2 linked regions of the Homo sapiens genome follow. The protein of the gene in region 1 purifies or fractionates together with the protein of each later gene. This does not show direct contact. Each region holds a gene or a part of one and is shown in the gene's direction. Other genes may lie near its edges.

What was found. The genes of interacting proteins can lie anywhere in the genome.
Region 2: the proteins of LMAN1L (region 1) and SPCS2 purify together in Homo sapiens (affinity purification with mass spectrometry; one large-scale study listed by BioGRID and IntAct). This does not show direct contact.

What each region holds. Positions count from the first base shown.
Region 1 is NC_000015.10:74,818,045-74,823,158, forward strand, and holds part of LMAN1L (protein ERGIC-53-like precursor), read left to right. Parts: intron 1-673; coding exon 674-773; intron 774-1,107; coding exon 1,108-1,228; intron 1,229-1,999; coding exon 2,000-2,055; intron 2,056-2,590; coding exon 2,591-2,723; intron 2,724-3,030; coding exon 3,031-3,182; intron 3,183-3,784; coding exon 3,785-3,856; intron 3,857-4,597; coding exon 4,598-4,665; intron 4,666-5,114.
Region 2 is NC_000011.10:74,958,438-74,962,769, forward strand, and holds part of SPCS2 (signal peptidase complex subunit 2), read left to right. Parts: intron 1-4,332. UniProt on the Homo sapiens protein: Component of the signal peptidase complex (SPC) which catalyzes the cleavage of N-terminal signal sequences from nascent proteins as they are translocated into the lumen of the endoplasmic reticulum.

The sequences.
Region 1 (5,114 bases):
GAGGGACGTAAGGGTGATAGGACGAGGGTGATAGGTGGGTCGGGGGAATGGAGGGCAGAAACTGTATTGTTGGTCCAGGCCTTTGTCCCCTTAAGGAAGGGCCACAGGGAGGCCCCTGGCCCCTTCTGTAAATCCAAGTCCCAACACTCCGTCAGGCAGGGCTTGCTTCCCCTGCTCCTCTCTCTTCTGCCAAGGGAGCAGGGTACAACAAGGGAGACTCAAGCTAGACAAGGTACATGTCCCATGCCAGCTCGCCCAGCGGAAAGGGAGGTGGCACAGCAAATCTGGGCAGAGTGGCTTCTGGGACTGCCCTCACTGTCCAGGCCTTGAGTCCTGTATATCCTGGCTGGATTCCAACTGCCCACAAGAGTCAGGCATGGTGGCTCACACCTGTAATCCCAGCACTTTGGCAGCCAAGACAGGTGGATCACTTGAGGTCAGGAGTTTGAGACCAGCCTGACCAACAATGTGAAACCCCATCTCTGCTAAAAATACAAAAATTAGCCGGGCATGGTGGTGCATGCCTGTAGTCTCAGCTACTTGGGAGGCTGAGGTGGGAGGATCACTTGAGCCCAGCAGGCAGAAGTTGCAATGAGCCACAACTGCACCACTGCACTCCAGCCTGGGCAGCGACTCTTTCTCAAAAACAAACAAATGAACAAACTGCCCACAGGGATGGAGCTAGCCAAGGGCTGGGCTCCTGTCATTGGGACTTCCGGAACCGGCCACACCCCTTCAGAGCACGGATCACCTACTGGGGGCAGAGGCTGCGCGTGAGTCACCCTTCCTGCTTCTGACAGGGCTCTGAGTTACAGAGCTGCTATGTGTGCGTGCCCACGGCCCCAACACACCAGTGCCTGTGACACCACGTGAGGTCCCTGGCACACACGGGCCAACATCCACAGGGGATCCTCCATCCCTACACAGAATCCTAACACTCACCCAGAGCACATACATGTAAGGGCTCACATGAGACCAGGAGTGCGGGTCACCTCCATGCCATTCTGATACCAAGCCCTAGGGCCACCTGCCATCCCACGGCCAGGGGAGCCAGGGAGTCAGAGGTAGGGACACCCCCCCACTGCTCACTCTCTCCATGTCCCTCAGATGTCCTTGAACAGTGGCCTCACTCCCAGTGATCCAGGTGAGTTCTGTGTGGATGTGGGGCCCCTGCTTTTGGTCCCTGGAGGTTTCTTTGGGGTCTCAGCAGCCACCGGCACCCTGGCAGGTGAGGATCCCACTGGACAGGTAAGAGCAGAAGGGCAGTGATGAATAAATCACCCTCAGCACACCTTCTAAAGAGCACTGGGGTGGCGTCAGCCACTTCACCACATGACCTGGGCTTCTGTGACCCTTGGGAGAAGTCATGTCTGCCTTGAGACTTGCAAGTCTCAAATGGGATAAAACAAGAGAAGCTTTGATTTCAGTGCTGGCCACATAAGTGCCCCTAGCTGTGAGTTGCGGGACAAGTGGAAGACAGACAGCAAAGAGGGGCATTTAGGAAAATGGAGCAAAGAAATGTGACACCATGGAGAGTCCACGGAGGGTCCCACAGCGGGAAAGCTGAGGGCAACCAGAGCGTGGGAGTCCTTGAATGCCAGGACCTTGGTCTGGTTTCTGAGGAGGAGAGTGACATGGTCAGAGCTATGCTGGAAAGGTGGCCACTGTGCAGTTGCTACTACCAGTAGCAGCTGTGCTCTGGGGGCCTAAGAGTGTCAGATGGTCTGCTGCCATGGCTCTAGCCCAGGATGTTTTGGGATCGTCCAGTTCTGCCACAGGGGCCTGCCTCTGACTGAGTGTGAGGTTCAACCCTCACCACCCACCCGTCTACCTGTCAACCCTCACACCTTTCCTAGGAAGTAAGCAAGACAAGCATCAGACGGTGGCCCAAAGTCACCCCTCTTGCCTCGGTGGGATATCATGGCGGTTAGGGTGAAGGCTGAGCGAGGGGGTTGCTGGGTGGAGGGGTCTTACTTCTCCTTCATCTGTCCCCTTCCAGATGATCATGATGTCCTGTCCTTCCTGACCTTCAGCCTGAGTGAGCCCAGCCCAGAGGTGATGCCAGCCCTGGCCTACCTGGGAATGGCAGCCCAGGGACCCTGCCCTCACCCATGTCATGGTGCCCTCAGACCTGCCATTCCAGCCCTTACCTCCACCTGGCCTCTGAGCTCTGCTCAGGCCAGACCTTGTGCAGGGCAGTGCTGCGGGCCAGGGCCGGTGTGTGAGGTCTCGCAGGCTGGCTGGCTCAGGCTGTGACATTACAGTTCAGAGCGATCAGTGCCAGGTCTCAAAAGGTGCAGGGGGCTGTGGGAGCACAGAGGAGGAGTCCCAACCAGCCAGGGGGTCAAGGAAGGCTGCCTGGAGGAGATGAGCTTAAAGGAGCCTCGGACCAGCACATATAGGCTTGAGGCCACAGCAGGGAGGGAAGATGGTGGGGATCTGCGTGAAGGCAGAACTCAGAGGGCTGGAAACTGCAGGGCCAGCTGGCCAGGGAGGAAGGCTGGGCTCGTGGGGAAGCCTGTGGGAAGGCTCCCCTTGCTTCTGGATCTCCCATGGGTTTGGGGCCCGACTTTCTGTCTTCCTCCCCTAGGTTCCCCCTCAGCCCTTCCTGGAGATGCAGCAGCTCCGCCTGGCGAGGCAGCTGGAAGGGCTGTGGGCAAGGCTGGGCTTGGGCACCAGGGAGGATGTAACTCCAAAATCAGACTCTGAAGCTCAAGGAGAAGGTAGGGACCGAGAGAGCGGGCAGGTGGCGCCCATCTGAGTGTCACAGCATCCTCCACCCTTATGACCAGGGGTCCTTTAATCAGTAGGGAAACTGAGGCCTGAGGAGGCCACATCTAAGCAGGCCCTGGGCCCAAGTGTTCTGTGCTATCCCCACCTTACCACTCAGACTCATCTTCCAGGAGAGGGTCTTGGAGGCAGCAGCCACACCTTCTGGCACCCCTCTCCAAGAAGCCACCCCAAAGATAAGATAGGCTGTGTTACCCCACCATGGCTGGCTGCCCATCCCAGCTCTGCCCTAATCCCCAGGGGAAAGGCTCTTTGACCTGGAGGAGACGCTGGGCAGACACCGCCGGATCCTGCAGGCTCTGCGGGGTCTCTCCAAGCAGCTGGCCCAGGCTGAGAGACAATGGAAGAAGCAGCTGGGGCCCCCAGGCCAAGCCAGGCCTGACGGAGGCTGGGTGAGAAGCCCTACAGGCATCCAAGGCTCCACCTGCGGGCCTGAAAGAGGAGCAAGCACTGTAGTCAGCAACTAGTCTCCCCTAAGGCCTGGAGGGAAAGGAAGGCAGGGATGAAATGCTGCAGGTCACAGGATGGGGCAGGGCAGCATGCAGGATGGCATCTCTGCACAAGCAAATGCGCACGGGGCTGGGGCTGAGGCTGGGGCTGGGGAGAGGAGATGCCAGCTATTTGGACTCAGCTCTGTAGATGAATGACAGAAATAGACTAGGTGCTAATTTGCATGTAGCTTCACATGCGATTTGCATAGGGCTTGCTTAATGCTCAGTTGCACCAGAAGCCTCATTGCATCTCCATTGCCATCTGGCTCCTCCCCCAGGGAGTCATAACTCGGGTCATGCCCAGCCTGGGGGCCTGAGAGCTAAACTCAGCCAAGGTGTTAGATACTGGGCAGAGGAGGCCAGCAGCTCTTGTGGGCTTTGCTGGGCTCTGACAGCTCGAGGTTTTAATCTTGTGTCAGAGCAGCTTAGGCTGGGCTGCTAGTGTGGGGAAGAGGGGAGGGGACTTACACTCCAGGGCCAAGCCTCTCTGATCCTATCCCCAGGCCCTGGATGCTTCCTGCCAGATTCCATCCACCCCAGGGAGGGGTGGCCACCTCTCCATGTCACTCAATAAGGTAGGGACCCAAACACTGGGTGTTGACCAGCACTGGCCCCAGCTTGGCTGGTGCTCTGGGAGAACCAGGGCAGAGAGGACTGGGCTGGGCCTCTGCTTCCTTCAGGGGACAGAACCACTTTTAGAAGGGAGACGTATTTTGGCTTGGCATGGTGGCTCACGCGTGTAATCCTAGCACTTTGGGAGGCCAAGGCGGACAGATCACGAGGTCAAAAGACTGACACCATCGGGCAGATCACAAGGTCAAAAGATCGAGACCATCCTGGCCAACATGGTGAAACCCTGTCTCTACTGAAAATACAAAAATTATACAAAAATTAGCTGGGCGTGGTGGCATGCATCTGTAGTCCCAGCTACTTGGGAGGCTGAGGCAGAAGAATCGCTTGAACCCAGGAGGCAGAGGTAGCAGTGAGCTGAGATTGTGCCACTGCACTCCAGCCTGGCCGCAGAGCAAGACTCCATCTCAAATAAATAAATAAGAAGGGAGAAGTATTTTGAGAAAACCCTGAAGTGGCCACTGTTGGGAGGAAACAACCACCCCTGGGGAGAGGGGCGTGAGTGGAGGGGGAATGTGGATGCCCTTATGGATGAGGTCAGAGAAACACAGTGTGTCCAAATAAGGAGGCCCTGGTAATCTGGGAAGGCCTCTGGAAGGAAGAGGCTGCAGTGCCGCTGGGAAGGTGGGCTCTGAGAAGAGAGGGGCTATGTCCTGGGCCCTAGACAAGAGGCTGCCCCTCTGCAGGACTCTGCCAAGGTCGGTGCCCTGCTCCATGGACAGTGGACTCTGCTCCAGGCCCTGCAAGAGATGAGGTAAGGGACTGGGTGGGGACCCCTCCACCACCTTGTTTCTCCGCCTTAAGTTCCTCCATTAGCCCTTCATTCCTTCCATCATTTCCTGAGCGCCCAGCACACAGCCTGTCAATTGGAAGGGCTACTGGTGGAGTTAGGTTTGTTGAGTTGACTTGAATTTAATTGAATCAAGTTTAATGTTTTGCAAGTCCTAGTTAAAAAGCAATTCTCTCCTGGAGAAGCCCATCATGAAGGCCCCCTCAGACACTCCCACCCTCAGGAGGCTTAAGAAATCTGAGCATTCCTTCAATGGCAGCTCCTAGGATGAGGGGCATTTTGTTGGGGGCTCTTGGAGAGGGAGCACAGCCAAGATCAGACCAGTTGGATGAGACAGTCCCTGACTTGGTTTTGTGCCCCCATTAACTTCCCGGTATCCCACTCTAGGCCAGGCCTCTGGAGCCCTGGGGGTT
Region 2 (4,332 bases), on another chromosome or scaffold:
GCACATTCTTAAGATAGACATCATTTTCTTCCCAAACTGAACATTTTCCTTTCTTGCTAAATATGTGTGTGTGGGGGGGATATAGGCACTATATATTTCCAACTGAAATTGTAATCTCAGCTTCTGAGTTTGCCATCAGTTTTTATTATCTCCTTATTTTAGTTTAGAACTCCACATATACAAATGGGTATTTATCCTTTTTCCTCCTGTATTCTTCTTCTTGGAAAATGACATGATGGCTCCAACAAGTCATCCAAGCCCTAATTCTAGTAGGTGGTCATCTCTGTCTCTTCTCTTTCATGTTCCTTATAACTAGTCTGTTACTAAGTCCTGCCAATTCTACCTCAGAATACTCCCTTTCAGTCCCCCTACTGCTGCTCTGTTGAGCATTGAGGCTCTGCACTTACATCAGGCCCCATCTGCATCTCTATGTCCAGTGTTACTCCCCTCCAGATCATCTGCCAGGTTGCCACTAAAATGACTTAAAAAAAAAACGTAAATTTGATTGTTATTCCCATGCTTAAAATACTCTCCATTGCCTGCTTCAGAATAAAGTTCAAGTTCTTTAGCCTAATAACTAGGAAATGGTTTCTCTCGGATGCCTCATCTCCTACTACTTTCCCCCTTTGCAGCTTCTGTCTACTTTCTAAACTGGGATAAAGGAGAGAAAAAGTTTATTTTTCTTAAAGCCATGCTCAGTTCTGTCTAAATCAGAACAGGGTCACCATTGACACCACTCTCACCCTTGGTAATTCTTCATCTCTCCAGTGTGAATTGAGGAATCCTTTGAGTCTTATTATCAAGCCAGGGAACTTTATGAAGCAATCCACTCAGGTCTTTTATATCACTGCATAACTTCTGTTTTCACTGTGATTAAAATAAGATAATTGAAGGTGTTCATGTGTCATACTCAAAACAATTTTGTTTTGCTGGACATATCCTAATGACCAAGGATTTTGTCCTTTTGTTTTTTGAGATGGATTCTCACTCTATTGTCCAGGCTGGAGTGCAGTGGCACAATCACGGCTCACTGCAGCCTATACCTCCTGAGCTCAAGCCATCTTCCTGCCTCTGTCTCCCAAGTAGCTGGGACTTTAGGTGGGCACCACCACACCTGGCTAATTTTTTAAATTACATTTTTTTGTAGATACGGAGGAGTCTTGCTATGTTGCCCAGGCTGATCTCAGACTCCTGAACTCAAGCGATCCTTCCACCTTGGCCTCCCAAAGTGCTGAAGTTATAAACATGTTGCCACTGTGCCTGGCTTATTTTGTCTCTTTTTTTGATCCCACCCTATCCCTTTGAGTGTGGTGAGATGCATGGGAACAGAAGGCTGTATTCCCTCAAATGAGTTAATTTGGAAAATGCCTTCCTGTACTGACTACATATCCTTCAGACCTGAGTTGTGTTTAATATCCTTCCTAAGCACTTATGGAGTTCCTGATGCCATACCTTCAGTGAAGTGTCTTTGTAGAATTTTTTATTATTCAAATGTGCAGTGGAGAAACGTAACTGAAATGATTCTTCATAATGTTCTATTAAAGCTATCAAATGCCTGTTTTCTTTGAACTGGTTAGCCAGCCAGCTCTGGCATCAGGTGTGTTAGTCTGACAAAAGTTGTCTTTATCTTGGCCGGGTGTGGTGGCACTTTGGGAGGCTGAGGTACGTGGATCACTTGAGGCCAGGAGTTCGAGACTAGCCTGGCCAACATGGTGAAACCCCATCTCTATTAAAAAATACAAAAATTAGCTGACTGTGATGACACTTGTCTGTAATCCCAGCTACTCGGGAGGCTGAGGCATGAGAATTGCTTGAACCCAGGAGGCGGAGGTTACAGTGAGCTGAGATCGCGCCACTGCGCTCAGCCTGGGTGACAGAGTAAGACTCTGTCTCAAAAAAAAGTTGTCTTTATCTCTTCAGTGGGTGGTGTAGGGGAGTAATTTCTTTAAGATAGTACTTTTTGAGCTCTGTTTTCAGCCAAATTGCAGTTGGTTTTACATTGGGGGGGGAGGTTCAACATTTTTGATACCCTGTGAGTTTTGTGGTCCTATTCAAGATTAACATCTTTTTTTTTTTTTTAGGTTTTTAAAATGTTATTACTAGAGCTTGTTAGGAATCAAGATACAATGTATAGCTGTCACTTCAGGGATCTCTTTGTTTCCTGTTCTTTGTGTTTTTGATGGCTAATAATTCCTTTCCTTGCACTTCATGGGAAAGCAGTGTAGAATAATGAGAGAGCATGGGTTTTGAGTCCTGGCTTTACCACTTTCTGCCTTTCACCTTTGGCAGGTTTTTTAAACCCTTAGTGTTATCTGTAAAAGGAGGATTTTAACTGTTCTTACCTTGTAGAGTTATTGTGGAAATTAAGTGAGATAGTGTATATAAAATACTTAGCACATCCGTAGCACATGTTAGGCATTCAGGAAATGGTAGCTATGATTATACCTTCTGTCTGCCCTCCATCCCTTAAAGAAATTCTGTGAATAAGAACCAAGTGAGATCATTTTGACCATGTTTACATTTGCTAAATTTAAACTGGAGAGTAACATTTTAGAGATCTTTTTCTTCCCTTTTTTTCTTTATAAGGATTTAGACATTAAAAAAAAAAAAAAGCTATTGAGAGTATATTGTGTTCCAGGCTCTGAGAATACAAAAGTGTATAGTCCCTGTGACCCAGTGAGGGAGACAATACATACAGTCAGGTAACCATGATGCAGTGTATTATATAGTTTTATATCATTAATAGCAACAGCAATAGCTAATTTTTATGAAGTACTTGCTAGGTACCAGGCACTGTGCACTGTGCTATGTTTTATAATTACACTATTTACTTCTCATACCAACCTGTGAAATAGATACTTTCACCATCTTAATTTTACAATTTAGCAAACTAATAAGGCTTTAGAGAGGTTAAATTATTTGCCCAGTGCCTTCCAGTATTAAGTGGAAAAGTGAGGATTAAAATAAAGTAGCCTGACTCCATTCTCCCTTGGATAATAAGGATTCACCTTATTGGGTAAGGAAAAAAAGCATTTGCCTACATACATTTGTATTTAGTCTAAATCCAGTCAGCTTGTTTTTTGTTGTTGTTGTTGTTTGTTTGTTTGTTTGTTTGTTTTTTGAGATGGAGTCTTCCTCTGTTCACCCAGGCTAGAGTGCAATGGCACCATCTCGGCTCACTGCAACCTCTGCCTCCTGGATTCAAGTGATCTCTTGCCTCAGCCTCCCAAGTAGCTGGGATTACTTAGCCTGGCTAAGTTTTGTACTTTTAGTAGAGATGGGGTTTCACAATGTTGGCCAGGCTGGTCTCGGACTCCTAACCTCAAATGATCCATCTGCCTCAGCCTCCCAAAGTGCTGGGATTATAGGTGTGAGCCACTGCACCTGACCAGAACCAATCAGCTTGTGATTTGAAGTACAGTACACCTTTAAGAATAAGGCCACAATCTGCTTTGGGATTGAGTTCAGGGATTAAGGCAAATAAAAATAAGTTTATATCACTGAAGAAGAGACAGTTTTATAATGAGCCATGTATTTGTAATTTAGCCCTAAAGAATTTTGTTGGCCTGTCATTTACTATTTGTATGGCACTTAACATCTTTGAACTCTAGTTTTCTAATCTGAAGGACATTGGTTTCTGGATTGAGGGTCTGCTTAGTGCTGCAATAAAAAGATGAGTGGCAATAGCAGTTTTACAGTGGGTGAAAATTGACCTGTGTAAGGGATATCATCTTGAAATTTTAGATACTGGCAACATAAAGAACTTTTTCTAGATTTCCAGAAGGAAAGGTGTTCAACATAAATCACATCATTTATACAAACAGTTGAGGCACAGTGAGCCATTCTTATCACTGAGGGAATGTATTTATATCAGTGTAGGGATTTGTTTTATCAGCCAGCTTGTCAGATACCAGCCAAGGGCCAACCTTGCAAACAAGCCTTGCTAAAGATGGCAGTCTTGGACCCAGGTTCACTTATTTCTGCACACTGCCCTTCTTTTTAATTTATCCTGTGAGGTCCCACATAAAAGAAACTAATTTTTGCTTTCTCTTTTTATTATTACAAAAGGAAAGCAATTTGCAATTAGTGTTGAGGAAGACAAAATTGAGGCAAAAAAAAAAAAAAGATAGCTTTTAAAATACCCGAATTAGTAGTAGAGAGAACATGAGGAGCAGCATACATTTTAGTTGATGAGCAGTTTTTGAGCATGATGAGAAGTAATAATCAGAAAAAGAAGCACCTAATAGCAACTCCCCTTCTTCCAGATGGTTCTCCATACTGTAGTAGAGACATTACTTGCTTCGAAATGGGCTGTGTTGCCGTAAAGTCAAA